Homo sapiens: one gene and its partners. The protein of the gene in region 2 interacts with the protein of the main gene of each other region in a biochemical or structural test. Each region holds a gene or a part of one and is shown on either strand. Other genes may lie near its edges.

What was found.
Region 1: the proteins of UBA1 (region 2) and UBTD2 are reported together in a solved structure, tested with the Homo sapiens proteins (one study listed by BioGRID).
Region 3: of the proteins of UBA1 (region 2) and UBE2U, one has a biochemical effect on the other in vitro, tested with the Homo sapiens proteins (one study listed by BioGRID).
Region 4: of the proteins of UBA1 (region 2) and ABCF1, one has a biochemical effect on the other in vitro, tested with the Homo sapiens proteins (one study listed by BioGRID).

Annotation. Positions count from the first base shown.
Region 1 is NC_000005.10:172,232,416-172,240,357, forward strand, and holds part of UBTD2 (ubiquitin domain-containing protein 2), read right to left. Parts: intron 1,944-7,942; coding exon 1,707-1,943; intron 1-1,706.
Region 2 is NC_000023.11:47,207,019-47,213,860, reverse strand, and holds part of UBA1 (ubiquitin-like modifier-activating enzyme 1), read right to left. Parts: intron 4,239-6,842; coding exon 4,174-4,238; intron 3,934-4,173; coding exon 3,738-3,933; intron 3,020-3,737; coding exon 2,945-3,019; intron 2,826-2,944; coding exon 2,636-2,825; intron 1,438-2,635; coding exon 1,349-1,437; intron 1,091-1,348; coding exon 998-1,090; intron 872-997; coding exon 680-871; intron 1-679. UniProt on the Homo sapiens protein: Catalyzes the first step in ubiquitin conjugation to mark cellular proteins for degradation through the ubiquitin-proteasome system.
Region 3 is NC_000001.11:64,207,339-64,215,280, reverse strand, and holds part of UBE2U (ubiquitin-conjugating enzyme E2 U), read right to left. Parts: intron 4,540-7,942; coding exon 4,442-4,539; intron 467-4,441; coding exon 349-466; intron 1-348. UniProt on the Homo sapiens protein: Catalyzes the covalent attachment of ubiquitin to other proteins.
Region 4 is NC_000006.12:30,572,503-30,580,444, forward strand, and holds part of ABCF1 (ATP-binding cassette sub-family F member 1), read left to right. Parts: intron 1-4,906; coding exon 4,907-4,953; intron 4,954-5,315; coding exon 5,316-5,411; intron 5,412-5,573; coding exon 5,574-5,700; intron 5,701-5,845; coding exon 5,846-5,883; intron 5,884-5,967; coding exon 5,968-6,075; intron 6,076-7,428; coding exon 7,429-7,503; intron 7,504-7,903; coding exon 7,904-7,942. UniProt on the Homo sapiens protein: Isoform 2 is required for efficient Cap- and IRES-mediated mRNA translation initiation. Isoform 2 is not involved in the ribosome biogenesis.

The DNA of each region.
Region 1 (7,942 bases), on a different chromosome or scaffold from region 2:
GTGGGTGCTCAATAACATTAGTAACAGAAGACTATGCTAATAAACTTTCATAATAAAGAACAGGCAGCTATAAAAAAAAGGAATGTTTCTTGGAAGCACAATTAATCAGAAAACTAATGGTGATTTGGAATCTGGCAAGGATATAGTAAGTTAAGTATCTTTTGGACAGGCACAGCAGCTCATGCTTATAACCTCAGCACTTTGGGAGGCCAAGGCAGGAGGATTGCTTGAACCCAGGAGTTCGAGATCATCTGGGCAACATAGTGAGACCATGCCTCTCCAAAAACAAAACAAAACAAAACAAAAAAACAAAAAAAAAGTAGCCAGGCATGGTGATGCGTGCCTGTAGTACCAGGTACTTGAGAAGCTGAGGTGGGAGGATCTCTTGAGCCTGGGAGGTCGAGGCTGCAATGAGCTGTCATCGTGCCACCACATTCTGGCCTGGATGACAGAGTGAGACCTGTCTCTTAAAAAAAGGGACTTTGGGAGGCTGAGGCGGGCGGATCACCTGAGGTCAGGAGCTGAGACCAGCCTAGCCAACATGGTGAAACCCTGTCTCTACTAAAAATACAAAAATTAGCCAGGCATGGTGGGGAAGCTGAGGCACGAGAATCACTTGAACCTAGGAGGCGGAGGTTGCAGTGAGCTGAGTGCACCACTGCACTCCAGCCTGCTGGGCGACAGAGCAAGACTCTGTCTCAAAAAAGAGAGAGAGAAAGAATAGAATAAAATAAAAATCTTTCATGTGACATACAGTGAAAGGACATAAAGCAGATGGTTCAACAATGAAAGTCCCTGTTCCTCTAAGAATGTAGATAAAGGGACGTACTAGGGATTAAAACAATGAAGGTACAATAATGAATAGAATCAATGCAAGGTGGTTATTACATAAATCTGAAAAGACAACCTTGAAAAATATTAAGTTGAAAAACTAAAGAGAATACTGAGAATATTAATACAGAAATAAAAAATGTAAATACAAAATTAACACCTAAATCTCAATGTAGCATGAAAAATTCTATGTTTCTCATCAAGGAGACCAAACAAGAGTATGTACATGGACCAGCATATGTGTATCCCCAGAAACATTCAAAGCTTACAGTTATCCTTAAAAGAGTCACATTCCTACGCAAAAGAGAGAAGTTCCTAAGAATGCTCAGGGCTACAATCATGGAAAACTGTCCTTAAAAACATGCGGGACTCTCTTCTAAGTTTGGGTTTGCTTATTATGCCAAAAATAGGCTTGATGAGAAAGTATAATGACTAAAAGGAGCATCCTCTGAGTCTCTACAGCTTACAAAATCTAAACTGAGACTCTATCTCTAGCGCTGCTAGGAGGAAACCAGTGAAGTGGAAGCTCCAATAGATTGGCAGGGTGATGAGGCTGGTGAGGTGGGGGTGGGAGGGTGGAGGGAAGAGGTCTTCATGGAGGACTAGGTTACACGGAAACTTTTTAGATGATCAAGAGTTCTTTTCTGAAATTAAGATATATTTAAAAAATATATACGTATACACAAACACACAAAGTAAAACCTGTCTCCAGCTGAAAGATGTACAAGAAAAAAAGAGGAATGCTATTCCTTGCTACATTAAAAAAAAAAGTTAGAATAATTCATAGCAAGGAAAAACACTCTCCCATTTGGTTTCTTGCTATCAGAAACAAAGTTGATTATGTTTCCTCTGTCCTTGAGGAACACCAAACCTACCATGTGGTAATGTTATGTTTGCACCATCAATGATTGCTTGTGCCAGTTCATGATCATTGCTCTCAAAAGCATGTGCAGCAGCCTTCAAGGCATCCCAAATCTCTTTCCGGCCTTCAAAAGCTGGTGCTGTATCCCAAAATTCATCCCTCTTGCTGCGTAGTTGTCCATCTGTCATAGGATAATCGCTTTTCCATTTTGGTTTCTCCTTTTTCAAAGGCTGGTTACGACCTAGAGCAACTGAAAAGAAAAATAAAAGACTGAGATCAAACCCAAAATTTATAAAATATGTATCAAAAGTTATCTGGTCATTCCTCTCTTGGATTATTTCATCAAAATCACAGCCAGAAATTTACCTGCTAGCTAATTTGTGCATCCTGAAATTCCTCTAACACATTTTGGAACTACAAAAGTGAATAGAGACATTAGACTGCTCTATGCAAAACAAATTGGTAGCTCTTTTCCACTCAGTACACCCTCCACAGGATCATTAAAAAGAATTACAGGCTGAGTGCAGTAGCTCAACACCTGTAATCCCAGCACTTTGGGAGGCTGAGGTGGAAGGAAGGCTTGAATCCAGGAGTTCGAGACTAGCCTGGGCAACATGGTGAGACCCCCATCTCTACAAAATACACAAAAATTAGCCTGGCATGTTGGCATGTGCCTGTGGTCCCAGCTACTTGGGAGGCTGAGGTGGGAGGATCACTTGAGCCTGGGAGGTTGTGTTTGCAGTGAGCCATGATCATGCCACTGCACTTCAGCCTGGGCGAGAGTGAAACCTCATCTCAAACAAAACAAAACAAAACTAAAGAACCCCAGAGAATTATAGTTGTAATGAATGTACCACTCTGGTGGAGGATGCTGATAATCAGGGAAAGGAGGCTATGTATGTGTAGGCACTGGGAGTACATAGGAAATCTCTGTACCTTCCTCTCAATTCTGTTATGAATCTAAAACTGCTCTAAAAAAATTTTTTTTTAATACAATGAAAGTTTTGTTTTGTTCATTTTAAAAGAACTGCCTAGAAGGTAAGTGTTTCATCAGACTGTAAGAGCAGGATATGAGAGTCAAGAGACACCACGAAAGAGAGGCAAGATACTTGGGGAAGCAAACGGCAATAGTAGCTTGGACACATGAAACCAGGAAGTAGGAACTGAGAAAATCCAAAGAGGTAAAAGATTGCTTTTCAGTGCCCAGAGAAAGAAGAGCCAAACCACCAGAATCATGAACAAACTGATTAGAGGAATGCTTCCTCTAGCATTCTACTCTCTGGACTTTAGTCAAGGAACTGTAAATACCTTTCTCTGGAACTCAAACAGGAACTAATTTACAAAGGGTAGAATCAGTACTTTAGTTTTTTTGAGGAACTGGGAGTAAAAGAGATAATCTTTGATGCTAGGCCAAGGGATTAGCTCCGAACCACAAGGAGCAGAAGAACTATGATACCCTACCCTAGTTTCAACCCAAGAGAAGAAGAAAACAGAGGGCAAGTGGCAGCATCTCCCCTTAGACAATGTTATGTAGTAGTAGCGCTGGAATAAGCCTGATGCAGCATCCTTGCACCCAGATAACCATCTGGTGTATTATCTGTGATCTATTTCCATGGGTCATACTGACCTACAGAGCCATTCTTATTTATGGCTCTGTAAGATTATACAGTGCTATAGATAGGGAATAGTTTGATAGATGGGATAGAAGATAGAAAGAAAATTGAAGCTGGATGAAAAGATAAGAAGAGTGTTGGAAAAGAGTGGGTGGGAAATAAATGACACAGCGAGTGGGAAGGAGAGAGGGTGTGTGTCAAAATTCAATGTTCTATATTTAATTGCAGAAAGAATACCAATTTTAAAGAAATCACTCTCAAACTGGTTCTAAAGCATCCATGAAATTGACTACTCCCTCATTGGCCCAGGGCCAGATGAAATTTGGACTATGCAAAACAGAAAATAAAATGACTCCAGACCCTGGGCTATCTCTACTCTCCAGGCTATATTCTCAATAAAGACTGCCAGGTCAGGTCTCTTCTGTCCTCTCCCCTCAGGGTGGCACACCAAAAGACTAGCTGTTTTCCACTTAAAACACTCAGCATTAACTCAAATACTTTTTGCCCTCTAACTTGTCCTAGTGAAATGCAAAACAGGTGAGTTCTGAAAGGGTGAGGAAGCAGAATAGGAAACCCATCCATTTAGTAGCAGAGCTGGAAACAGAATCCAAGTCTCTTTATTTAATCAACAAATATGTACTGAGTGTCTACTGGGAGTAACACTACAGATGTGCCTATTACATTTAATTCAAATGCGAGAAACACAGTCTATACTAATGATTTTTCCCTACCTCTTCCAAATAATACAGACAATGCAGCTAGAGCATAATTCTCTAGAAGATGTTCAGAATCTGGTCTGATAACCACAACCCACTGATTGCACCAACACGATGGAATGCAAGGTTGATTTTATTTTCTGCTACATTATCATTTAGATGAGTTAGAGACAGTTTACAGACAACACTCAGCTTACTGACCAGGAAGTGGAAGATGGCACAGTAAGCAGGTAGACTCAGTAAGATATTTATCTGAATAAAGTTTTGGGTCTGAGTATTTCTACAGAATTATCTGGCCTCATATGTATTAAATGCATGAGAGATAACTCAGTATAATTTTTCCTGTCATTCTGAGAGAATTACAAAGCATGGACAAAAACAACAAAACCTCTACAGAAGAATCTCAGGACCTAAAACTAAAGCAAATGAAAGGAAGAGGACTTTGAAAAGAGGAAGCCAACAGAAAAACAATCATAATAAGGGTACAAAGTACCTTGGAAAAATTGTAAAACACCTTCCTTACAAATGTGAGGTAGGTTCATTTCACCTCTCTCCGTTTGTACTAAGCATAGATGAACAAAGTCCCACAAAAAGAACAGATGATGCGTTTATGTTGCTTAAGGAAAATCATTCCAAATGCATTTTCTTTAATTTTTAAATTTTATTCATATACTTGAGACAGAGTCTTGCTCTGTCGCCAAGGCTGGAGTGCACTGGTGCAACCCGACTCACTGCAACCTCCGCCTCCTGGGTTCAAGCGATTCTCCTGCCTCAGCCTCTCGAGTAGCTGGGACTACAGGCCCGCGCCACCATGCCCAGCTAATTTTTGTATTTTTAGTAGAGACGGGGTTTCACCATATTGGCCAGGATAGTTTCAATTTCTTGACTTCATGATCCGCCCGCCTCAGCCTCCCAAAGTGCTGGAATTACAGGCATGAGCCACTGCGACAGGCCCCCAATGCATTTTCAAATCTACATGCTGTCAAAAGTTTCACGGTAATTTGTGACATGAAGGAAGATTACTTTTATTTGCCTATTTCTGCCTGTATTATAAACATAATATAGAATATCTGTCTATAGAATGTCCACTGTTAAAAAATGATTAAATCTTTGTAACATAATTACTTTAGTGAAACCACAGAGCAGTGCAGAATTTTCACTACAAAATCTGAGGCTTGAAGCTTCATGTTAAACTAAATGACTAACCTTTGTTAAATAAATAACTGGGAAAAAAATTAGCATTTAGCAAAAGCATTTGAACTATCCTCTCGTGAAAACATGAAAATATTTAGGTTTGTTAAGAGGACTTAAGTTCATATTCATAAACCACTCATAATAATGCATGATATACAATAAAACTGCAAATAAATGTTTGCTAAATAAGTAAAAATGAACTTAGAGGTACTATATGAAATAACATCTTTAAGTCCTTTGGCAAAAATATACAGGCTGTCTTTCTTCTTTTCATAACTTCCCAATCCCTTCCTTAAATGTTAAAGAAATGTCCCTGATTGTCATGCACTTCCTGTGCCTTATCAGAGTACACTTGCTAGGCATTTGTTCACCAAATCTTATCCTTTGAGTTCAGGTGGTGCCACAAACCTGTATTTCTGAAAATGCAGTAGTTGGACATAGATTATCAGCCTGGCAGCTAAGTACCTCATGTTTGTACCAAGCCAAACATTTTTGTAAGATGTAGAATATATACATACTCAACTAGATTTCATTTTATGCTCTTAAACTTTCAGTTTTATCTGCTTCACACATCTTCTGACTGCTGATACCAAAAGAGAGATGCTTGGTAATCATACATAGCATATAGGACTAGGTACCATGCTCTAACAGTGAAGAATTTAAAGACAGGAAACATCTTTTATTCCCCAAATTTCTGCTTCTCTATCCTTAAACTGCAGGTAACCAACCATCTTTAGTGCACTATGAATTAACATATGAGAAATAAAAAATTAATAAAGCAATCTAATCTTAAAAAACCACACAATCTATTTCAGAAAATATCCTTTCCCCCATCAATCCACATTTACTTCAAAACGTGTCCAAAAGTCATCTTTTTCTCAGAAACCTCTTAATCATATTCACCCACTCTTTATCTTTCCTTGTAATCTTTAAACACTTCTTCCCACTCTGTAACAAATAAACAGATCTAACACACAGAAAACCCAAGTAAGGCTTGTTTCTCAGATCTAAATAACACATAATTTTAAATATTTTTACTACATAATTTAAAGCATTCTACCAAAAACTCATTTTGACATTGGTAAAAAACAATCAATTCTGAAGTTAAGTATGATTATAATTGTTTTCCTGTTTTGGGTTCCTCTTTGAAAACCTTGATTTAATGATGGAACGCTTCAAATGAAGAAAGAAGAGGCCATAATGCATGGATAAGGTGAAAATATCAAGATATGACTCAAGCAACAGCTTTAACCGGTTGAAAACTGGAAGCATCAGTTTCCATAAGACAATAGCGTGAGGGGAAAAATGGAGTATTAGAACCCTTCCGTAACAGACGGTGCTAAACTAAAAGGACACTTGCAAATATTTTCACATAAATTTAGAATGCACTATATACACACATATATACATACATGCATAATACATATATTCCCTTTACCTAAAGCAACTAACTGCCAAAAAAAAATAGGGATATGGGAATTAAAATGCCTAAAATGCCAACAATCAATACAATATGCAAATCTTCTCTACTGTTTGAGAATTTAAAGGTAGAAGAGACCTTAGATTGTATAATCCAACCTTACTGACAGATAGGAAACTAAGATGTAACAAGGATGGCTTAAAATAATCACCCCGTACTAGAACACACATGCCCAAATTCAAAGTCCAGATCTCACTGGGTGCGGTGGCTCACATCTGTAATCCCAGCACTTTGGGAGGCTGAGGCAGGGGGGATCACTTGAAGCCAGGAGTTTGAGACCAGCCTGGCCAACATGGTGAAACCCCGTCTCTCTCTTTTTTTCCTTTGAGATGGAGTTTCACTCTTGTTGCCCAGGCTGGAGTGCAATGGCATGATCTCGGCTCACTGCCACCTCTGCCTCCCAGGTTCATGTGATTCTCCTGCCTCAGCCTCCCGAGTAGCCGGGATTACAGGCGCCTGCCACCACGCCTAGCTGATTTTTATATTTTTAGTAGAGACAAGGTTTTGCCATGTTGGTCAGGCTGGTCTCGAACTCCCGAACTCAGGTGATCCACCAGCCTTGGCCTCCCAAAGTGCTGGGATTACAGGCATGAGCCACCGTGCCCAGCCTGGTGAAACCCCATCTCTACCCAAAATACAAAAATTAGCCAGGCGTGGTGGCAGGCACCTGGAATCCCAGCTACTCGGCAGGCTGAGGCAGGAGAATCGCTTGAACCTGGGAGGCAGAGATTGCAGTGAGCCGAGATCACACCATTGCACTCCAGCCTGGGCAACAGAGCGAGACTCCGTCTCAAAACAAAACAAAACAAAACAGAAGACAGCAACAACAAAGCCCAGATCTCTCTTTCCATTATAGCACTCCATGTCTTACTGGGCTGCTTATTTTCACATAGCAAACCAATAACGAAGATTCACTCTAAATAAAGCATATGCTGAATTGTTTTTCTACAGAAATGATCCATCCATGGGCTTCACTATGGCCAATGGAATGGTTATGACCAGACAAAGGAAAAGCTAACAAAGGAGAAGCAGCAGCTCCCTAGCCCTATCTAATCTACCACTTAATCTATGTTGTGGAGATACCAACCATGATCACTGAAGAGGAATCCTGCAGTAAAGAAGGGGTGATGTGGCTTTACGGCCTATCACTTTCAACTTATAAGTACTTAGCATCTACAACAAATTAGAGACTAAGGATCGTATGTAGGAATATCTGCCTAGACAAGTTAGATACATCATTTTCCGT
Region 2 (6,842 bases):
CAGTCTCGCTCTGTCACCCAGGCGGGAGTGCAATGGCGCCATCTTGGCTCACTGCAACCTCCGCCTCCCGGGTTCAAGTGATTCTCTTGCCTCAGCCTCCCGAGTAGCTGGGATTACAGGTGCCTACCACTACGCCTGGCTAATTTTTTGTATTTTTAGTAGAGACAGGGTTTCATCATGTTGGCCAGGCTGGTCTCAAACTCCTGACTTCAGGTGAACCACGTGCCTCGGCCTCCCAAAGTGCTGGGATTACAGGCGTAAGCCACCACGCCCGGCCTCTTTTTATCCTTTTTTGATTCCAAAATCATTTAATAGGTTATTTATATAATCTACTTGAGGAACATAACTTAGAAGAGTCCCTGCACACAAAAGGTGCTCAATAAATATTTGAGTGAATTCATTAATGAAGCAAGCAAAGCACTTAAGTGTAGGAAGCGTCCAATAAATTTTGGCTGCCATTATTGTGTAGTTACTAATAATCTCCCAGGGCACAATTCAAATATCCCATCTTTTCGCACGTACTCAAATAATGTGATTAATGAATAAGTGAAAAAGGATACACAAAAAGGGTAGGTACACAGACAGAAACCCTCACCTGGTGACAGGGTATGACGTGAATCAGAACCAGATCTACACAGATACACCCCACCCAAACCCTGCTTCGGATGCAGGCCCCCACCTGGTGACGTGGTGCGGCAAGGGGTTCAGAGAAACCAAAGAAAGGCAGGGCCAAGTTGAGGAAACCATTCTTGTAGGAGTCAAGCTGTCGGTGCCCCTGCACAACCTTGTACAGCTCCAGACACACAAGGCCAACCACGGCTGCTGTGGTCGTGGCAATGGCTGGGATGATCTTCCCTGCAATCAGCTTGCTCTGAGAGACAGAAGGGACAAAAGAAGGTGGTAGTTAAGTACAAGAGCCTCAGGGTCTACAGAGGGGCTAAGTGTGGGTAACTCAAACCTGGAGGAGGGTGGAACATCAGATTTAGATTCCCCTCACCTTGTGCCGGTCTGCAGAAGGAATGTCATAGTTTTCTGCCCGGAGGTTGGATGCAGCCACGATGAAATCCATATGAAAGTTGCTGTCATCATCCTGTTATGAGTGGGGAGGGTGTGAAGGCAGTGGGGAGAGGATCAGATAAAGAAGATGTGTATCCTCCACTGCAATTGCCTGCTGGACTCTCCCAGATCACAAAGGGATGGCTGGGAACACCTACTCATTCAGAGCCATATGGCAGGCCCACAATCTGATCCCCACAAAGGCCCGGGGCTGGCTCCAGATACTCCTGTTTTCTCCAGCCTGTCTATGCTTTGCCCATCCTCCTTCCCTGTCCTGAGCCCCACCCCATACCTTCTCAAAGTCAATGGGGTACATCTTGAATCCAGGGAGCTTGTCTGGGCTGGGCAGAGTGGCTTTGAGCTCCTCTAGACGACTGTCATCTGCATGAAGAAAGGGACACTGTCAGCCCTTTAGATCCCAGGCTAAGGTCTGAGATGGAAATGAGAGCCCAGGGTGGGGCAAAAGGTATTCAGGTACAAAAAGGATTTGGAAAGGAGAGACATCCTGGGAGAGAAAAGGGGCAAGGAGGAGAGGTAGAGCAGAGCAGAATACAAACCTGAAAAACACAGAGAAAGAGCTGAGGCTATCAAGAATGATCTCTCTAGAGACACTAAGGAACGGAAATGAAAATGTTAGGAGAAAGTGGAGATGGAGAGATCAAGATGGGAGACGTAAAGATCTTGGGAAGAATGATGTAGAGCAAGATGGGGGGAACACAGAGGATACAGGGAGGAAAAGGGGAGTAAAAAAGATATATGGAGGGGAAGTTGGGGGGAATACACAGATGTGGACATAGAGGAAAGATATGGGGGGAGATGGAGAAGATATAAAAGGGGGAGAGTGGGGGTATATACAGAGGGCGAGGCAGGTGGGAGGAGAAAGATGGAAGAAATATATGAAGGTGATGAGAGCTATGGAAGGAAAGATTGGAAGACATACATAAAGGAACATGAAGGAGTAGACATTTCAGAAGGAAGATGGGGACCATGGAAGGGGAAATGGGAGGAGATCTATGGAGAGGAAGACGGGGGAGATATAAGGAAGGTAAATGTAGGGGGCGTTACAGAGCTACAGAAGCATCATATACAGAAGGGAGGGGTGGTGAAAAAATATGCAGATGGGGTGGGGTGGGGGTGTCAGTAAACCGCAGCCCCAAACTATGGAGGGTGAAGATGCACAGAGAAACATGCAGGTAGATGTACAGATGGGGGCGGATCTGGAAGGAGACAAGGCAGGAAAGTATCAAGGGAGAGAGACTGCTGGTAGAGATCATACCTCCTAGATGAACAGATCAAGAAGAAACAGAAGAAAGAACAAAACTAAGGGAAATACACAGAGCAAGAGTAAAACAGCAAGTTCTCCTGAGGGCCAGATAGTGGGAAGGAGGAGGAGGGAGGGAGATAATTTGCCCCAACCTACCCTCTTCATGTCAAAGGGAGGCTCAAAGGAAGGTGTGGGTAAACCTCAGGCCTGGGGTCACAGAGCAGAGCAGAACCAGGGGTAGAGGACTGGTGGGGAGGCTGGACTAGGCCGGGGACATGTGGGGTGACTCCTGGCCAACTGGCCAAACACCCTCACCAACAGAGGCATTGGCGCTCTGCAGCTCCTGGTCAGAAACATGGATCTTGACGCCAGACTTGGGGGTGAATTCGGGGACCTGCACAGACTGCAGGAATGTGGCCACAGCAGCTCGGTCCTGAGAGCCTGTCAGCCCGTAGGTCTGGGCAAACAGGTTGGCAGCAGCCATCACATAGTCCAGATGCAGGGGCTAGGAGAAGGCAGGGCAGGGAAGGGTGAGCACATCAGCCCTCGAGTGGGGAGCCGCCACCTCCTTCCCACCTATTCACCCTCCACCTGACCCCAGAAGACCCTAGAAAGGAGACTTACATTGTTGACATCAAAGGTGAGCGGGTGTGGACAGCGTTTGGGCCCAGACCAGAACGGCGCTCCTGAGCTTGTGAGCTAAGGGATGGAGAGATTTTTGAGAACAGGACCTGAGAGTGAAGGCCTCTCTGACAATCTTCACGCTTCACCTAGGCCCCAGATGTGCCCCCAATTCACTATCTTGGGTTGGGCACTCGATGCGGACTGGAGCCAATCACAAAATACCTCAACTGTAGGGTCCCACAGGTTGAACCAGAGATCTGGCTGAGAGAACAATTACCAATCACTGGGTAGCCATTTTGTGCTAAACAGCCCATCATTTAACAAACTCTCATGGATTACCAGGCATTGTACTAACTTCATTTTAATAAATACCAGTTAATCCTCCCCAAACCCCCCATGAGATAGATCACTATTATTTCTACTTCACAGACGAGGAAACTGAGGTACAGAGAGAAGTTACGTGATTTGCCTAAGTTCAAGTAGAGTTTGGATTTGAACCCATATTGATTCCTGTGCTCTTAACTCCAGAATTTCTCCCCCATAATCCCTACAGCCCTGACTGGGAATCAGGTATGACGCAGCCCACACCACAGTCAAGGGCAATAGCAACCAAGCCTCTTTGCTCAAAGGAACTAGGGTGAGGAAAAAGCAGGTCAGGATCAATCACTCTTCTCAGATCCCCATGCCTCAGGGCACCTGCCACAGCTGGACTCCACAGTGGGAGGACCCACACTGCAGGCTCCCATTTCAGGGAAACACATTCTGCCAAATGGACCCAACAACTGGGCATTACCTGGTCAGGAGGGAAGTTGTGCAGCAGCTGCCGGATGTTGTTCGAGTACTGGGTGTGCCAGTGGTGGCAGGCCCAGGTCACGCAGTCAGCCCAGGTCTGTGGTCGCTGCAGCACCAGGCTGCGCTGCACAGCCTCCAGCACCTCCAAGGGCTGAGTGCCTGCCAGCCGCAGTGTTCGCTCCACAAACTTGGGGTCTCTATCAGGAATCGAAGAGGACAGAGGATAGGATTACATGTCAGCCTCAAGAGTGGGCTCCAGAGCAATCTTACTTTCTCCATGGAAAACTAGTCCCGACCCCAAACAACATGAGGCCCCAACAGCCACTCATTCATGTGAAAAGTGTGCCTGGTGCCAAGTGTTACTGTCATGAGGAAAGCAGCCGGGATGCCTTGGCTGGTGGACAGGGACAGGGCGAGAGGGCACTCGAGTTACTCACGTGAGGTACTGGTTGACATTTTCTGCTGGCTGCTTGAAGAGGCCTTCAAACTCATCCCGAGCCCACTGCAGACAGAGCAAACAGATTACATGTGGCCACAGTTGACAAAATGGGTTTCCGCAGGCATTATTAGAAGGACCATCAGTGAATAAAGCAAGTACAAGGCGCACAGCTACTCTGGAAGTGGGGAAGCCCTCTAGCCTTCCCCATTCCCCCACCTCAATTGAAAAACCAGGCCAGGCACAGTAGCTCACACCTGTAATCCCAGCACTTTGGGAGGCTAAGGCAGATGGATCACCTGAGGTCAAGGGTTCGAGACCAGCCTGACCAACATGGTGAAACCCCATCTCTACTAAAAATACAAAAAGTAGCTGGGCGTGGTGGCAGATGCCTGTAATCCCAGCTACTCAGGAGGCTGAGGCAGGAAATCTCTTGAACCCGGGAGGCGGAGGTTGCAGTGAGCCGAGATCATGCCATTGCACTCCAGCCTGGGTGACAGAGGAAGACTGTCTCAAAAAAAGAAAAATCAATGAAGTTGATTTGGGCAGTGGTTACAATAGTGCTGTGTATGTGGAAAACTGTTTTGTTTTGTTGTTTGAGACAAAGTCTCACACTGTCACCCGAGCTGGAGTGCAGCGATGCAATCACGGCTCACAGCAGCCTTGACCTCCCAGGTTGAAACGATCCTCCCACCTCAGCCTCCCGAATAGCTGGGACAGCAGGCACATGCCACCACACCCGGCTAATTTTTAAGATTTGTTGTAGAGACAGGGTCTTGCTATGTTGCCTAGGCTGGTCTTGAACTCCTGGGCTCAAACAAACCTCACTCCTTGGCCTCCTGAGTGCTGAGATTATAGGTGTCAGCCGCCATGCCCAGCCTAAAAATGTATTAAGATCTGAGTGCCAGGCGAGGTGGCTCACGCCTGTATTCCCAGCACTTTGGAAGGCTGAGGCAGGAGAATCGCTTGAACCTGGGAGGCGGAGGCTGCAGTGAGCCGAGACTGCGCCACTGCACTCCAACCTGGGCAACATGAGCAAAACTCCACCTCAAAAAAAAAAAAAAAAAAATCTGTGTACCTTATTCTAGATATGTTATGCCTCCATAAAAAATAAAAACTTCAATTAGGTATATCTTACCACAGTTTTTTAAAACACAAAAAACTCAGACCAAACCAACAATGATCCCTATCCAGGCCCTGAGGACTTGGCAGAAAACAAGACAGAGGCCGGACACAGAGGCTTACACATGTAATCCCAGCACTTTTGGAGGCTGAGGCAGGTGGATCACTTGAGCCCAGGAGTTTACAACCAGCCTGGTCAACGTAACGGGCACGCGTGCGTGCGCACACACACACACACACACGTACACACACTTACACGTACACACAGACACTTACACACACACACACACACACGTACAGACACTTCCCAGGAGTTGGAAGGTTGCAGTGAGCTATGATTGTGCCAATACACTTCAGCCTGAATGGCAGAATGAGACCTGTCTCAAAAAATAAAATAGCAAACAAGACAGAACTTCTGGCCTCTGAGAATTCCTAGGACAGTTCGCAGTCATTAGCGAGGTGGTTTGGAGTGTACAGATGTTAGAAATTCAGGTTCAGATTCCAGCTATGCCACGTATTACCTAGTTTTGTGACTTCAGGCACACAGGATAACATCTTTACCTCTGTGCCTTGTCTCTAAAACAGGTGTTACAACAGTGATACCTACCTTCATGGGGTTGCTAGGAAGAAATGAGCAAATACATATATATTTAAAGCTTGGTTAAAACAGTGCCAGGCACACAGTAAATGCCAAGTGGTTCACAATAGTCCTGTGAGGTAGATGCTGTCATTCCCATTTTACAGAACAGGAATCTGCGGCACAGAGAGGTTAAGTTCAAGGTTACACATGACCTAGCAAGACTGTGGTTGGTGCACAAATACAAACATACCCACTCTGGAACTGCAGTGTCAGAAGGGAGAAAGTGACAGATGGAACTGTTTTTTTTTTCCCTTCCCTATTTTGTTCCCACCCTCATACTCCTACTATTCTAAATGGTTTGGCCTCAAACACTGCACTAAGAATTATTCTGACAGCACAATGGTAATCCCTAGGTTCTGTTTCTTGGCCCAGGTGGTGGTCACCTGTGTGTTCACTTTGTAAAACTTCAGCTAGATCAAGCTTGTCTAACCTGTGGCCCATATGCAGCCCAGGATGACTTTGAATGCTGCCCAACACAAATTTGTAAATTTTCTTAAGACATTATGAGATTTATGCACGGATCTTTTTTTCTTTTATTTTTTCAGCTCATCAGCTATCGTTAGTATTAGTATATTTTATGTGTGGCCCGAGACAATTCTTCTTCCAATGTGGCCCAGGGAAGCCAAATGATTGGACACCCCGAGCTAGATAATATATGCACTGTTCTGTAGATAAATGCACCATACACACAGAATCATCCTGACAAACCAGCTGTTAAACTCATTTTGAGTAACAGCTGGGGAAAACCTGAATATGGACCATTAGAGACAAATAAATAACTAGAAGAGATGGTAAGAATGATTGTTAATTTTGCTGAGCATGAAAATGATGTTTCTGTTAGACAGAAGTAGTTCTCAACTGGGAGTGATGTGGCACCCCTGGGGACATCTGGCAATGTCTGGAGACAT
Region 3 (7,942 bases), on a different chromosome or scaffold from region 2:
TAATTGATAATTGCCAAATAACAAAAAGTAGGTACTTCTTTTTTTTTTTGAGACAGAGTTTCACTCTCGTTGCCCGGGCTAGAGTGCAATGGCATGATCTCGGCTCACCGCAACTTCTGCCTCCCAGGTTCAAGTGATTCTCCTGCCTCAGGCTCCCGAGTAGGTGGGATTACTGGCATGTGCCACTACGCCCAGCTAATTCTGTATTTTAGTAGAGACAGGGTTTCTCCATGTTGGTCAGGCTGGTCTCGAACTCCGGACCTCAGATGATCCACCCACCTGAGCCTCCCAAAGTGTTGGGATTACAGGCGTGAGCCACTGCACCTAACAAAAGTAGATACTTCTTACTTTGTAATGGCCTGTTGAAAAGTCTTAGAATTGTTCTGTACAGAGATTCATCTTTAACCAGTATTCTGGCTGCTTCCAAATTCACTGGATTCTCTAGCACTGGATTAGAAAGCATAACCTATAGGAAAACACAGACAACATATAATTTCAGAAGTAAACTTTTTTTAGAGCAAAACGACAAACCAATATATACAACTTTCAATAAGCATGTATTAAATGCTTACTATGTATGGATCTGGAAATAGATTAAAAAATAACATGAGACATAGTCTGTACTCTCAAGAAACCTAACCTTAGGCTCATGAATGTACGGTATAAAACTGTGATAGATCAAAAAGCAAGTTACAAGTTCCTTTCTGTAACTTGTTCCTTCCTAGCATATACATTTACATTGAATTTAAATTAAGATTATAAAAATTTTAGTTGATGGTGGTTAGTGTATTTAAAATTCAAAATATTTTAACCAACATTTCAAGTACACTTCCCTTGAATAACAGTGTGATAATTGAAAATGTATCTAATTTGTTATCAAGAAAGAAGTAGTTAGTCATTATGGTCTCAACTTGTATTGCCCATCACTGTAGGCACAGTCACAGGTGGTTATTTACATTTAAAATAATTAAAATTAAATAAAATTAAAAATTCAGCTCCCTAGTCACAGTGGTAACATTTCAAGTGCTCAGTAGCCACATATGACTAGTAGGTACTGTATTGAACGGTGAGATATATTGGACATTTCCATCAATGCAGAAAGTGCTACTGCGCAGCACTGACCTTCAAAGGAATACTGAATAGCTATTAAAATATTGATTATAACCATATGGAAGTTACTTGAGAGACAATGTTAAGTGAAAAAGAAACAGGCTGTATAGTTTACATACTCACGTGCCACATAACAATGTTTCACTCAACAACAGACGGCATATATCATGGTGGTCCCATAAGATAATAATACCAAATTTTTACTGTACTTTTTCTATATTTAGATACACAAATATTTACCATTGTGTTACAATGGCCTATAGTGTTTAGTACAGTAACATGTTGTATAGGTTTGTAGCCTAGGAGCAACAGGCTATAACATAGCCTTCGTATGTATTAAGCTATACCATCTTGGTTTGTGTAAGTACGCTCCATGATTTTCAAACAACGATGAAATGTGTAACAACTCATTTCTCAGAATGTATCCTTGTTGCTAAGCACATGGCAATATACATACCATAATAGCAATAATGTAAAAATTCAGGTTCATTCATTCATTCATTTTATTTAATATCTACCAAATGTCAGCATTGTCTTTGGTATGCTCCAGGAAATCAAGGATGAATTAGACCTGTTTCCTGATTTTGGGGAGCTTGCAGTCCAATAGGGGAAGACAGATAAGTAAGCAGTGTGTGCTTTATAGTATTAGTGTTCTAACAGAAATCTGCTCAGGGTACTGTTGGGTGTGTAGCAAAGGAAGCTCCCCCAAAACCAAAGCTATTAATTCTCCCTAGGAAAATAAATCAGAAAAGGTATCCTAGAGGACGATTCATTTGTTCCAACTCTTACAACAACATGAACAACTGCTTGCTGGACAGACTGAGGAAGAGAAGAGGAGAAAATGAGTTGCCAGGCAGAGGGGAACTGGAGACTGACCATTTCTAAGGTAACTTTAGAACTCTATGAATGTTTTTTTTATCTGAATTGACCCAAGCAATGTGAGTGCAGAAAAGCATGAAGATATAAGTATGAGCAGGATTGCCTGGTGTGTTAGGGAGAGTCTAGGTGTGAGGATTAGATATGCAACAGAACTAGAGCTTACACCTGTGGAGAAGGTGGGATCCACTGAAAGATTTTAAACTGAAAAACAGGAGAAAAGAGCAGAAAGCTCTTTCCTAGTAACAGTAAAGTTAAGGGTTTTCTTTATAATTGTCAGTGATTTTCTTTTCCTTCCCATTATCTTAAAAATCTTTTGTAATGTGGGCATATTTGTTTTATTAATGTTTTCGAAAAATAAAAAGACAAAATTGTGTTATCTACTGGCTTTCCATGATATATTTGGCAACACTTTGGTGTCACTTTGCATTACTCTTTAATAGTAAGAACAATCATAATGTTAACTAACTAGAGGTTCAGCATCCTAAATCTGAAAATCTGAAATCCTAAATACCCCAGAATTCAAAACTTTTTGAGGACCGACATGATGTGCAAAGGAAATGCTCACTGGAGTATTTCAGATTTCAAATTTTCAAATTTGGGATGCTCAAATGGTAAGTATATGTAATGCAAATATTCAAAAATTGGAAAAATTTCCAATTCCTAAGCATTTCAGATAAGAAATACTCGACCTGTATTAACTATTGAGTTATTTTCTTGGACCAGGCACAGTTCCGAATTCTTTACACACATTAATTAATTTCCTCCTCACAGGTTACATGAGGTAACAACAGCCCCATTTTACTGATGAAGAAATTGAGACATTGAGAAGTGGAAAAATTTGTCCAATGATAGATACAAAGGTATCAAGTGGCAGAACCAGGATGTGAAGCCAAGCAAGCTAACTCAGAGCCCCACATTTTCCTTTTATCAAATTATTCTGCAATTCAAAATTTTCACCAGTTCATTCTGGTTTGCCCTTACTCATTACATTTTGGGATCATTTTGCTATTCTTAGGGCAGACTCTAGTTTAGGTGGATGAGATCAGAATATGTCTCAGTTTAAAGGAATCCAAAGGATTAACCCCAGATTTCTGCATATCACACTCACTCACTCCCTTAAATTTTTTGCTCAAATGTCTCCTTCCTAGAACACAACCTCACACAAGTAGATCCTCAATACATATTTGTAGAATGAATGAATGAACTGAACATTGAATCTTTCCTAAAGATTATATTTTACTTAGTATGCTAAGATGACTAGCCAGGAAAGTATTATTTTATTTATTTTCAAATACAAGAAATAGAAGAAATGCAATTTATATTATAATTCTATATTTAAAAACTCAATTATGCCAGAGTATTTTATATTCCAAGTATTCTAGATAATCAAAATGTAATTATTTATCTTCAGATATTATTGGTGATAAGTAGGTCATGGATAGATTATTGCTAAGCTAGCTCTAAGAGGTCAAAGCAAGTTCACTGAAATAATTCATTTTAGCATTAGATGAGAAAGGAGGCATTTTTAAGGACCAGAAATAACACAACACTGGGTGGATGTGGTGGCTCTTGCCTGTAATTCCAGCATTTTGGGAGGCTGAGGTGGGAGGATTGCTTGAGCCCAGGAGTTTGAGGCCAACCTGAGCAACATAGTGAGACCCCGTCTCTACAGAAAATTTAAAAAATTAGCCATCCATGGTAGGGCATGCCGGTGGTCCCAGCTACTTGAGGGGCTGAGGTGGGAGGATCACTTGAGCCCAGGAGGTTGAGGCTGCAGTGAGCCAGGATTGTGCCGTTGCACTCTAGCCTGGGTGACAGAGCAAGATCCTGTCTCAAAAAGAAAAAAAGAAAAGAAAAGAAATAGCACAACACTGAGGTATGCTTCTAAGGACCATGGGTCCAGTGGGTAAAGGTGGCATCTGAGAAACAGGCATCTGAGGAGAGGAGAAAATCCTTGGTATAAATTGTTCACTGGGTTTGATGTGAACACTATTGGGACAGAAAGTAGCTAACTAGCACTGTCAGAAACAAAAAACAAAAGTGAACATTTTAAGTTGTAGTCATTCGATCCACCTCTCTCAGGAAGGCAAGGTCCATAAATGAAGAAAGATCTAAAAGGCTTGCTCAACATCAGGAAGTGAAGTTAGGAACCAAAAGAAAACCTAAGGTTATATTTTCAGAATTGAAACCATCTAAATAATTATTTTATTCTTTTATAAGATATGCATTCTTTGGTCTTGAGGGGCCTTAACTATCAATTTCACTTTAAATAATAGTTTTTATAATTTAAGTAAGTTCCACTTTGTAGCCTTCATATAGAAGTATGGATTTAAATAAACTTCTCAAATTCTTTAAACACTTAAATATGCATTGTATATTTTAATCCTTGTAGTTTGAATAATTAGGGTAATTAAAAGTATTAAAGAGAGGATTATATGAAATCCATTCTTACCTGTAGGGCAAGTAAGATGCTGCTCAATGTATAGTTTGTATTCCACTTCTCAGGGTTGTCCAAAAAGTCTATACAGGGCTGACCAGTGTGTGGGTCTACTGTATTAAAATAATACATTAATATTTGCATTTATAATAAATTATTATTTAAAACTTACAAACATCAAAATGATAAGCCAGAAAAATTATCTGCATTTACTCTTCCTTTTTCCTAGTTCTTCTCTCTGTACTGAGAAGCACTATACCCATCCCTGGTTCCCACCCATTACCATGTTGTTTTAGCTGAATACATAGGTGCCCCTACAGTTTTTCCTATCCTCTCCTTTAGCAAGATGTGGCCTTGTGACTAAGTTTTTGTTGTGGGACATAAGGATAAGTGTGCAATTTCTGAGTCTTTTTTTAAAGGAAGCTGGCTTTCCTTCTTTTCTTCCCCCTTCCCCCAGACTGGAAATGGTGACAAACAGTAAATGCCTTAGTCCCAGAAATGGAATCTTCACATTGAGGATGGGCACAACCTCCCTCCAGCGTTGTCCTGTTATGTTAAGTTGGAAAGATGTACAGGAGCTTGGCATATGCCCTAACACAGTTAAGTAATTTAGTGTTTGAAAAAATAATAGAGTTAAATAAGAAAAATAAAACTGTAGAATGACTAGAAGAAACTTAAAATGACTATTTGATTTTCTTTTGGGAAAGGATCATCTAAGATGAAAGACAACTGCAAAAGCCTCAAAGGACAAGATTAATAGATCTTAAATATAAATTTATTTTAAATCATAAAAATCTCTAAATCCCAGATGTGAAAAAACAGCATAAACAAAGTTGAAAATTAATGACAAATTAGAGGAAATATTTGCAACATCTAGGACAATGTGATAGCACTGTCAATTGTATCATACGAGTCACAAAATAAGAATCAACAAAGGTGGGAAATGTTTACTTCTCAAGTATTCAAAGAAGTGCTTATTAAAATAATAGCAAGACTCTTACCAAATTGGCAAAAAAATTTTCTTCAAAGTTTCAATGGCCAGAATTGGAAGGTGCTAAAATAAGAACTTTATATGTACTTTTTGGTAGGAGTACAAATACCACCGAAAGGCAATTTGGCTTTTTATATAAAGACTTAAAACTGTACATAGCCATCTTTTGCGGGGCGGGCGGGGGCGGGGGTTGAAAGCTAGTAAATAACCCTTCTCTCCCCTCAAGTTCATATGTAATTATAAAATAGATCAAAGTATTGAAAGGTGGAAGTAAAAACATCAGCTTCATTGCACATAAGACTGAAATGGAGAACGCACTTGATGAATGGCTTTAATCAGGCTCCACAAAAGTCCCCCTGATTTAAACTTAACTCCCAAACCGAAGGCCTGCCTAAGTTTCCTGCCTGGAGCAAAAGAGACTATACCCAGTATGGTCAGAAGGAGAGAGTGTTGAGCAAGTTCTGGGCCACATATGCTCAATTCTTTCCTTCATCTCCCTAATCAGATAAGTGACTTCTAGGAGGAGTGATGGGGGAAAAAAAAAGAGCAGTCACAAGTTTTCCTATACCTTCCCCCTCCTAGAGACTAAAGTTCCCTCTACTTTATGGAAGTGGGAGGGATGAGGACTAGGGGATAAGAGTACCTCCCCCCATTGAATTTAATCCAATAATTCTAACTATTTTAAACAAATAAAGGCACACGTATGTAATTAATTTTGTGTTATAGATACCAAAAATAGGTTTTAATTACAATAAAATAATGTACTTGGGAAAAAAACATAAAAAATCTAATGTAAAATATGAATGTTCCCCTGCCTACTAATTCTACTATTCAAGACCAATATTACCAGTTGGTCTATACAAATATACACACAAACACATATATGTATACACACCCATATGTGTGTGTTTATTAAATGGGAATATATTTTACATTTTATTGTTCAATGTATTTTTTCACTTAACAATGTATTTTCAACATATTTCTGGACACAAATATTTATTCAAAAAATATCTGAATACCTACTATATGCCACGCAGTGAAGATTCTAAGGATATAGCAATGATCTAGACCTAAAAGGTTCGTAGACCTTCCTCGTTCTGTTTAGAAGCAATACACGTAACTGTAGGATATTTCACTTAAAATTCCTGTGTTAATGGAGATTGAAGTTATTTCCATTTTTCCTATTTCTAACATTGCTGTTGGGAATAAACATCTTTTTTTTTTTTTTTTTTTTTTTTTTTTTTTTTTTTTTTTTTTGAGACAGCGTCTTGTTCTGTTGCCCAGGCTGGAGTGCAATGGCACAATCATGGCTCACTGCAGCCTCGACCTCCTGGGCTCAAGCAATCCTCCTACCTCAGACCTGAAGTAGCTGGGACTACAGGCACATGCTACCATGCCAAGCTAATTTTTTTATTTTCTGTAGAGACAGGTCTCACTATGTTGCCCAGGCTGGTGTCAAACTCCTGGACCCAAGCAATACTCCCCACTGACCACCCAAAGTACTGGGATAACAGGCATAAGCCACTGAGCCTGGTGGGAATAAACGTCTTTAAATATAACACACTCTTGCACACTTGTGCTAATATTTCTACAGAATAGTTTATAAACATGGTATTACGGGAATTTAGGGATATATGCATTTTATACCTGATTAGAAACTGTCACACTACTTCCTCAAAAGGTCATGATTATATCAGAGGAACAATGTCTGCCCATGCCTACTAAATATGTATGTTATATTTTGACATTTTATGAATATGTGATAAATAACAATACTTTTTGTTTTAATTTGCTTTTATTTTCTTAGTAGTGAGATTGATAATCTTTTTATGTTTATTTTTGTTGTTTATTCTGTCCAGTGTTTGTTTATAGCCTTTCTCCATTTTTTAATTGCTTTATGTTCTTTTTATATTGATTGACAAGTGTTCTTCATATGGTATACATATTCTGTTACATGCATTGCAAATATTTTCCCTCAGTTTGCAAAAGTCAGTGTCTTTGACCTCTGAGTATAATGTCCTGGGCCGTAGAGAAGTTTTAACAGGTTTTGCAGTTTAATGTGTCATATTTTCCATACAGTTACTGGGTTTTATCATGCTGAGAAACGTCTTCCTCACCAAGCCCATAAAAATTCTATTAGATTTCCTTCTTTTCCAGCATTTAAAATTTTTAGATTTTTGATCCTTCAGGAATTGGTTTTGTGTATAACTTTAAGTAGCAATCTAACTTACCTTTTATTTAAAAAAAGTTAATCTGTCCAGTGCATCGTTTTTTTATAATAATGAAAAATTAGATCCAACTAAAATATTGAACAATACAGAAATGGTTAAGTGTATTGTTGAACCATTTAAGATGATCTTTTGAAGACTGTTTAATAATGCAGAAAAAAGACATATAGTTTTAAAATTAAAAACCTAGGCCAGGCGCAGTGGTTCACAGCTGTAATCCCAGCATTTTGGGAGGCCAAAGTGGGCGGATGGTCAGGAGTTCAAGACCAGCTTGGCCAACATGGTGAAACCCCA
Region 4 (7,942 bases), on a different chromosome or scaffold from region 2:
TAGCTGAGTATTTTTTTTTGAGGCACATTGTAGCTCCATCACCCAGGCTGGAGTGCAGTGGCATGAACATGGCTCACTGCAGCCTCCACCTCCTGGGTTTAAAGGATCTTCCTGCCTCAGTCTCCCAAGTAGTTGAGACTACTGGCATGCACCACCACACCTTATTTTTAAAATTTTTTGTAGACACAAGATCTGGCTATGTTGCCTAGGCTGGTCTCAAACTCCTGGGCTCAAGTAATTCTCCTGCCTCAGCCTCCAAAAGTGCTGGGATTACAGGCGTGAGCCACTACATCTGCTCCCCAGAGTTTATTCTTGAAAGATCATCGTGAATTAGCAAGGGGAAGCGCATTCCAAGCCAAGGAAGTTTGTGGAAGGTAGAGATGTAGGCAAGCCTGACTGGTCCCACTAGAGCCTGGTGACTAGTGTGATGAAGTCAGAAAGATGCTCAGGAGACAGATAATGAAAGGCTTTAGATGCCATTCCGAGGAGTTTAATCCTAAAGACATTAAGAAGGAAGGCCCATTGAAGTGCATAAGGAATGATTATGAACAGTTCACCTGTAGCACTGAGCAATGGAGAATGAATGGCCTTGAACTGGTCAAGATGGAGGCGGGGAGACCATTTAGGGGGCTCTGGCCATGATCTAGGTGAGAAGTGGTAAGGGGATAAGCCAAGGCCTGAAGAATAAAGAGTTACTAAGGAGGCGGCATTGATCGGAACTGAGAACTGATTAAATGAAGGGAGAAGTAAGGTTGACACTTAAGTAACCCAGTGACTAGTAGACTATTAACTGAAAGCAGTAATGGACAGGAGAGTAAGAAGTGGAAAGAGATAAGGTGAACTTCTGAATGCTGAGTTAGGCGTTTCTGAGGATTTCTAAAAGGAAATGGCAAGAAGAGAGTTTGTTTAGTCACTGTGGAGAGACAACTATACTAGGAGTAAAGACACAGGCAAGTAGAGTTGAAGTGCTGGATATGGAAGAGTCCCCTAGAGAGTGTTTGCAGATTGAACCAAAAAGAAGGTTAAAGGTGGGAACCCTAAAGAACTTCAGCAATTGCAGGAAGCAGGTGGGGAAGGAGGCTGAAGAGATGAGACTGAGAAAGGCAAACAGCCAGAGAAACTGGAGGCAAACCAGGAGTGAGCAAGATCCCAGAAATTAAATAATGATAGAAGAGAATAAAAAAGGTGTGGAGGTAGGCAGCATGGAATGCTGCAGAGAAGTCAGGCAAAATAAGGACCAAAAAATACTTTGTGGTTTGAGGAGCTAAGGGTTCAGTGGCAACTTTGGCAGAAGTAGTGTTCATTCGGAGATGATACCAGATTGCAGTATGTTTCAAAGGTATGGGAGAAGAGAAAGTGAAGCTTGTGAATTACGATTTTGAGACCCAATGAGGACAAGAATACGAAACAGTAATGGGGGAGAGGGGTATAAGGGTAAAGAAGGCTTGCTTTCTTGCCTTGAAGGAGCAGCTTAAGCGATATACGAAAGGAGAGAAGACACAGTATATCTCTAGCCACACTTAATCTTTTTCAGTTCCTTGGGGATTATACTTTCTCACAATGAAACTCTTCGGAGGCTTTTCCTGTCCCTATAATGAAGTGGATAAGAGTGATTAAAGTACAAAAGATTTTTTTGGTTTTGGTGGGTTTTTTTTTTTTGTGACGGAGCCTCACTCCAGGCTGGAGTGCAGTGGCGCGATCTCAGCTCACTGCAGCCTCAATCGCAGGCTCAAGCCATCTTCCCTTGTAGCTGGGACTACAGGCACACACCGCCATGCCTGGCTTATTTTTTGTTTGTTTTTGTTTTTTGTTTTCTGTAGAGATGAGGTCTTGCTATGTTGCCCAGGCTAATCTTGAACCTCTGGCCTCAACCAGTCCTCCCACCTTGGTCCCCAAAATGTTGGGATTACAGGCGTGAGCCAGTGTGCCTGGCCACAAAAGAGATTTAAAGGAAGGAGAGATGGTATGGCTGTGTTAGTCCTTGGGGAGAAATTAGTGTCTGGGATGAGTCAGTCATCTGTGTTGATAAGGTGAGCTGATCAGGTTTTTCCTTCTTAGGTACTTCAGTAGATCCTTCCTCCTAATGCCTTTAGGATTAAACTCCTTGGAATAGCATATAAAGCCTTTTATTATTAATCCTGCACAATTTTTCAACTCTCACACTAGTCACCCAATACTGGGCTCAGATTTTTTTTCTTTAACTTTTTTGTTTGTTTTTTGTGGTTTGTTTTTTGGGGAGGAGGAGGGCCCCAAACTTTGAAATGTGTTCTGGATGGAGGATGCAGATTAAGCAAAGACAGACATAAGCGTGCCTGGGACTTCATAAAGGAACAGAAAGAAGCCAGTATCGAGACCAGAGGTGTGGGTAGGGAAACAGAAAAGATAGGGTAGGGCCATTTTAGTCTGTGAAGCCTTTAATTATTGGAATTGTCTCTCGTTAACTCTAGTTTTTTGGAGAAGTAGATGCACCATAAAACTTTCCTGAATAAATGATTACTTTGAAATACATGGAATTCTAGTCTGAGAATATTTTAATGTAGTAGATGGCGGATACCATTGACTTTTTTTCTTTTTTTTTTTTTTTTTTGAGACAGTCTCGCTGTGTCACCCAGGCTGGAGTGCAGTGGCGCGATCTTGGCTCACTGCAACCTCCACCTCCCAGGTACAAGCGATTCTCCTGCCTCAGCTTCCCAAGTAGCTGGGACTACATGCGTGCTCTGCCACGCCCAGCTAATTTTTGTATTTTTAGTAGAGATGGGGTTTCACCATGTTGGCCAAGCTGGTCTCAATCTCCTGACCTTGTGATCCACCCACCTTGGCCTCCCAATGTGCTGAGATTACAGGCCTGAGCCGCCGCACCCGACCAATTTTTTTTTTTTTAATATTAAATACTGAAATGCTTAAGGGTAGAATTAGATAGCAGTGAATGGAAGGGATGTTTTGGAAGAGAAGATAATAAATAGGCCTAAGCCTGAAGGGAAATCATGAGGCTGCCTCCAGTAGGGGAGGGAGTTGGACATGGTCCTCTACCTTCAGGGAAACAAGGATGGAGAGGGGGAGAGCTAGAATCTGTTGAATCTGTTTTGGCTTTACTGGGAACACAGGCTAAACAGTCTCTCAGGTTACTCTCTAGAATGAAAGCACACAGACAGGTAAATATGACACAATGTGATTTGTGCTATAATATTCAAGCAGAACAAGTAAGGCATAGACTGAGGTGTTCATTTGCTTACCAGATAACTCTATTTACATGGCCTATAGGTTTTACAAACAACGTGTCCCCCTGGCCAGGCACAGTGGCTCAGGCCTATAATTCCAACAGTTTGGGAAGCTGAGGCAGGAGAATTGCTTGAGGCCAGAGGTTCAGGATTAGCCTGAGCAACATAGTGAGACCTCCTCTCTAAAAATTATTATTTTTTTAATTAGGCAGGCATGGTGGCGCTTGCCTGTAGTCCTAGCTACTCAGGAGGCTAAAGTGGGAGGATCACCTAAGCCTAGGAATTTAAGGTTACAGTGAGTTATGATCATGCCACTGCATTCCAGCCTGGGTGACAGAGCAAGACCCTGTCTCTTAAAAAAAAAAAAAAAAAAAGGAGGGTGTGTGTGTGTTGTATACATGTGTGTGTATCTACACATATCTCCCAAATTGAATTTATAATATCTTCTTCCTTCCTATAAGACCTTCTCTTCCACTGCCTCCTTAATTAATAAATGGTACCACTTAGCCCAGCTAATTTTGCCAGCTAAAAACACAGGAGTCATCTCTGAGTGCTCTTTTTTTTTTTTTTTTTTTTTTTTTTTTTGAGATAGAGTCTTGCTCTGTCACCCAGGCTGCAGTACAATAGCGTGATCTCAGCTCACTGCAACCTCCGCCTCCTGGGTTCAAGCAATTCTCCTGTCTTAGCCTCCTGAGTAGCTGGGATTACAGGCGCCCGCCACTATGCCTGGCTAATTTTTTGTATTTTTAGTAGAGACTGGGTTTCACCATGTTCACCAGACTAGTCTTGAACTCCTGACCTCAAGTGATCCGCCTGCCTCTGCCTCACAAAGTGCCGGGATTACAGGCATGAGCCACCGCGCCCGGCCGGGTGCTCTTTATTCCCCACCTCTAGCCCCATCCTATGAATTCTTCTTTATGTCCGCTTGTCACCACCACCCAGACTACTCTGACAGCCTCCCCAGTGGATTTCCCACTATGCTTATTCCCTCCGATTCTTGCTGTACTCTGAAGCCAGAGTGAAACTTTAAAGTGTGAAAGTGATCATACCAATAAAGTCCCCATTCCTTAACCTTGCTACAAGGCCCTCACTCCAGCCTTACCTTGCACCATTCTCCCCTCAGTCTGTAAGCTTAGCCATACCAAACCTTTCCCTGTCTCTCAGTGTGTGTGCTTTCTCACAGCTGGGCCTGTGCACAGCACTGGAATTACACCATGTGTCTGACTAACTTCTCATACTCCTCATTACTTCAGTTATTTGCTTAAATGCCATCTTCTTAGAGAGGCCGCCACCAGAGATGAAGCCAGCCTCTCCCCCACCACCAAGTAGGCTTTACCTTTTCTTTTGGAACCTTCAGTACACCTGGAATTACCTATTTAAAAATCTCTCTTCCTATAGCCTGCAAGCTCCAGAGGAGACCACATTTGTCTTGTTCATTGCTATGATCCCCTACGCTAGCACAATATCTGACACATGGTAGCTGTTTAGTAGATACTTAGTGGATGAATGAATAGAGATGGGAATGATTATTTCTGCAGGAGTTGTGAGACAGTACAAATATTTAAGGAGTGATAGTTAAGCTAGAAAAATAATAAAATAGGATAGAGGCTACAGAGATCTTTGCAGGGGGGATCAGACTGCTTTGGAATTTGCAGATAAGCATTCACGATGTCCGCTTAACTTTCTAGACAAAGTGGTGAAGAAAGGGAAGAAGGACAAGAAGATCAAAAAAACGGTGAGAAAATGAGGGTTGAGGATAAGAAATGACTATGGATGTTTCCAAGCTAAATAAATAGCCATGTGAAGGAGGTGGGAGGTCCAAGGGAGGAGAAAAGATCTTGTCAAGAGAGGAGATAGGCAGGGCACGGTGGCTTACACCTGTAATCCCAGCGCTTAGGGAGGCAGAGGTGGGAGGATAGCTTAAGCCCAGGAATTTGAGACCTGCACACTCCATTCTCCACAAAAAGAAAAAAAAGAGAGAGACAGGAGGTAAGGTGAGGGTGGAGTGGAGGGCCAGTGGGCCAATGTGTGGCAGAGCACAGCCTGCTTGGATTGCTCTTGGAAACATGTTTACCTGTAGCTTAACTCCCTTTATAGTTCTTTGAAGAGCTGGCAGTAGAAGATAAACAGGCTGGGGAAGAAGAGAAAGTGCTCAAGGAGAAGGAGCAGCAGCAGCAGCAACAGCAACAGCAGGTACAAGTGCCACAGGGCCCACCAATCCTGGGAGGCATCTGGGTTCCACCAACCCCTTTCCAGCCCATGTTGCTCCATTCAGCTGATGGGGAACCCTCTGTGAGGCAGAAATACAGCAGGGGCCTGGGCTTCATTTTCTCACTGTTCTTTTGCTCTCAGCAGCAAAAAAAAAAGCGAGATACCCGAAAAGGCAGGCGGAAGAAGGATGTGGATGATGATGGAGAAGAGAAAGAGCTCATGGAGCGTCTTAAGAAGCTCTCAGTGCCAACCAGTGATGAGGAGGATGAAGGTAAATGACCTGAGGGGGAATGGGTACCTGGAATCCATGAGTCATGGAGAGTGATACCTCATACCCTGATCTTCAAGTTGGATTCAATTGGGGGGCCAGACATTGTAATTCTTTCCTATCTCATGTTCTCCCCCTGTCATTTCAGTACCCGCCCCAAAACCCCGCGGAGGGAAGAAAACCAAGGTAAGCCATCTGTGTGGTAAACGGAGACTCCAAGGATGCAACCTTGACCATCCTACTGACTTCTGTGGCCCTTTCATTCTCTAGGGTGGTAATGTTTTTGCAGCCCTGATTCAGGATCAGAGTGAGGAAGAGGAGGAGGAAGAAAAACATCCTCCTAAGCCTGCCAAGCCGGAGAAGAATCGGATCAATAAGGTGACAGTGGTGGCTCGATCAGTCACTCTCACTCCATTTAGCACCTTCTGGCCATGGTGGAGTAATTTCCCGCTTTTAAACTAGCTCTTCTCGGTCTGTCTTACTTATACTGTTAAAATCATCTTTTTAGAATACATGCCCAGGCTGGGCACAGTGGGTCACGCCTGTAATCCCAGCACTTTGGGAGGCCGAGGTGGGCGAATCACGAGGTCAAGAGATCGAGACCAGCCTGACCAACATGGCGAAACCTCATCTCTACTAAAAATACAAAAATTAGCCAGGCGTGGTGGCGTGCGCCTGTAATCCCAGCTACTTGGAAGGCTGAGGCAGGAGAATCACTTGAACTTGGGAGGTGGAATTTGCAGTGAGCTGAGATTGAGGCACTGCACTCCAGCCTGGGCAACAGAGCAAGACTCAGTCTCAAAAAAAAAACAACAAAAAAAACCATGCCATTTTTATCACTCAGAAATCTACAGTGATTCTGTTGCTTTAAGCACAGAACCTGAAACAAAGCCCCAGGTCCTTGCTCTTCTACTTGTGACTCTTCTGCGTGTGCATCTTAGTCCATGTCCATTTGAGCTCTTGAGAAAGCCTCCAGTGCTAGTGCCACTCACTCTGGTGGCGCACTTGCCTGACTTATAATCCTTAGCCTTGCTGACGTTCCCTAGTTATCTCTTCGCTATCTAGTCTGAAGCTGGAGGGTAGGGTTTTTCTGGGTCTCATTTTTCGTCAGCAGCACTCAATACAGATGGTCTCCAACTTCTGCTTCGGTGTACGATTTTTCTACTTTATGATGGTGTGAAAGTCATACTCATTTAGGGTACTCCTCAACTCATGATGGGATTATATCCAGATAAACCCATCATAAGTTGGAACTATTTTTTTTTTTTTTTTTTTTTGAGACGGAGTCTCACTCTGTTGCCAGGCTGGAGTGCAGTGGCGTAATCCTGGCTCACTGCAACCTCCGCCTCCCGGGTTCAAGTGATTCTCCTGCCTCAGCTTCCTGAGTAGCTGAGATTACAGGCACGTGCCACCACGCCCAGCTAATTTTTGTGTTTTTAGTAGAGACAGGGTTTCACCATGTTGACCAGGATGGTCTCGATCTCTTGACCTTGTGATCCACCTGCCTTGGCCTCCCAAAGTGCTGGGATTACAGGTGTGAGCCACCACGCCCGGCCAAGAACTATCATTTTTTATTTAAGTTTCTGGTGGGTTTATCGGGATGCAACCTGTCGTAAATGGAGGAGCATGTGTATGGTTAACACAGTAGACTCTCTAGAAATGCTTATTACACAGCAAAGTAGCACAATAATTTGTATGTATGTGTGTAATGTGTATGTGTGTCTCCTCCAGGCCGTATCTGAGGAACAGCAGCCTGCACTCAAGGGCAAAAAGGGAAAGGAAGAGAAGTCAAAAGGGAAGGCTAAGGTGAGAGAGTAACTAGCAGGAGGAGGTATTGGGGCCCAGGAATTAAAACATTTCATCAGGGCTGGGCGCGGTGGCTCACGCCTGTAATCCCAGCACTTTGGGAGGCCGAGGTGGGCGGATCACGAGGTCAGGAGATCGAGACCATCCTGGTAACACGGTAAAACCCCGTCTCTACTAAAAATACAAAAAAAATTAGCCGGGCGTGGTGGCGGGCGCCTGTAGTCCCAGCTACTCGGGAGGCTGAGGCAGGAGAATGGCGTGAACCCGGGAGGTGGAGCTTGCAGTGAGCCGAGATTGCGCCACTGCACTCCAGCCTGGGTGACAGAGCGAGACTCCGTCTCAAAAAAAAAAAAAGAAAAAAAAAAAAAACATTTCATCAGACCTGTCTTTTCCCTATTAGCCTCAAAATAAATTCGCTGCTCTGGACAATGAAGAGGAG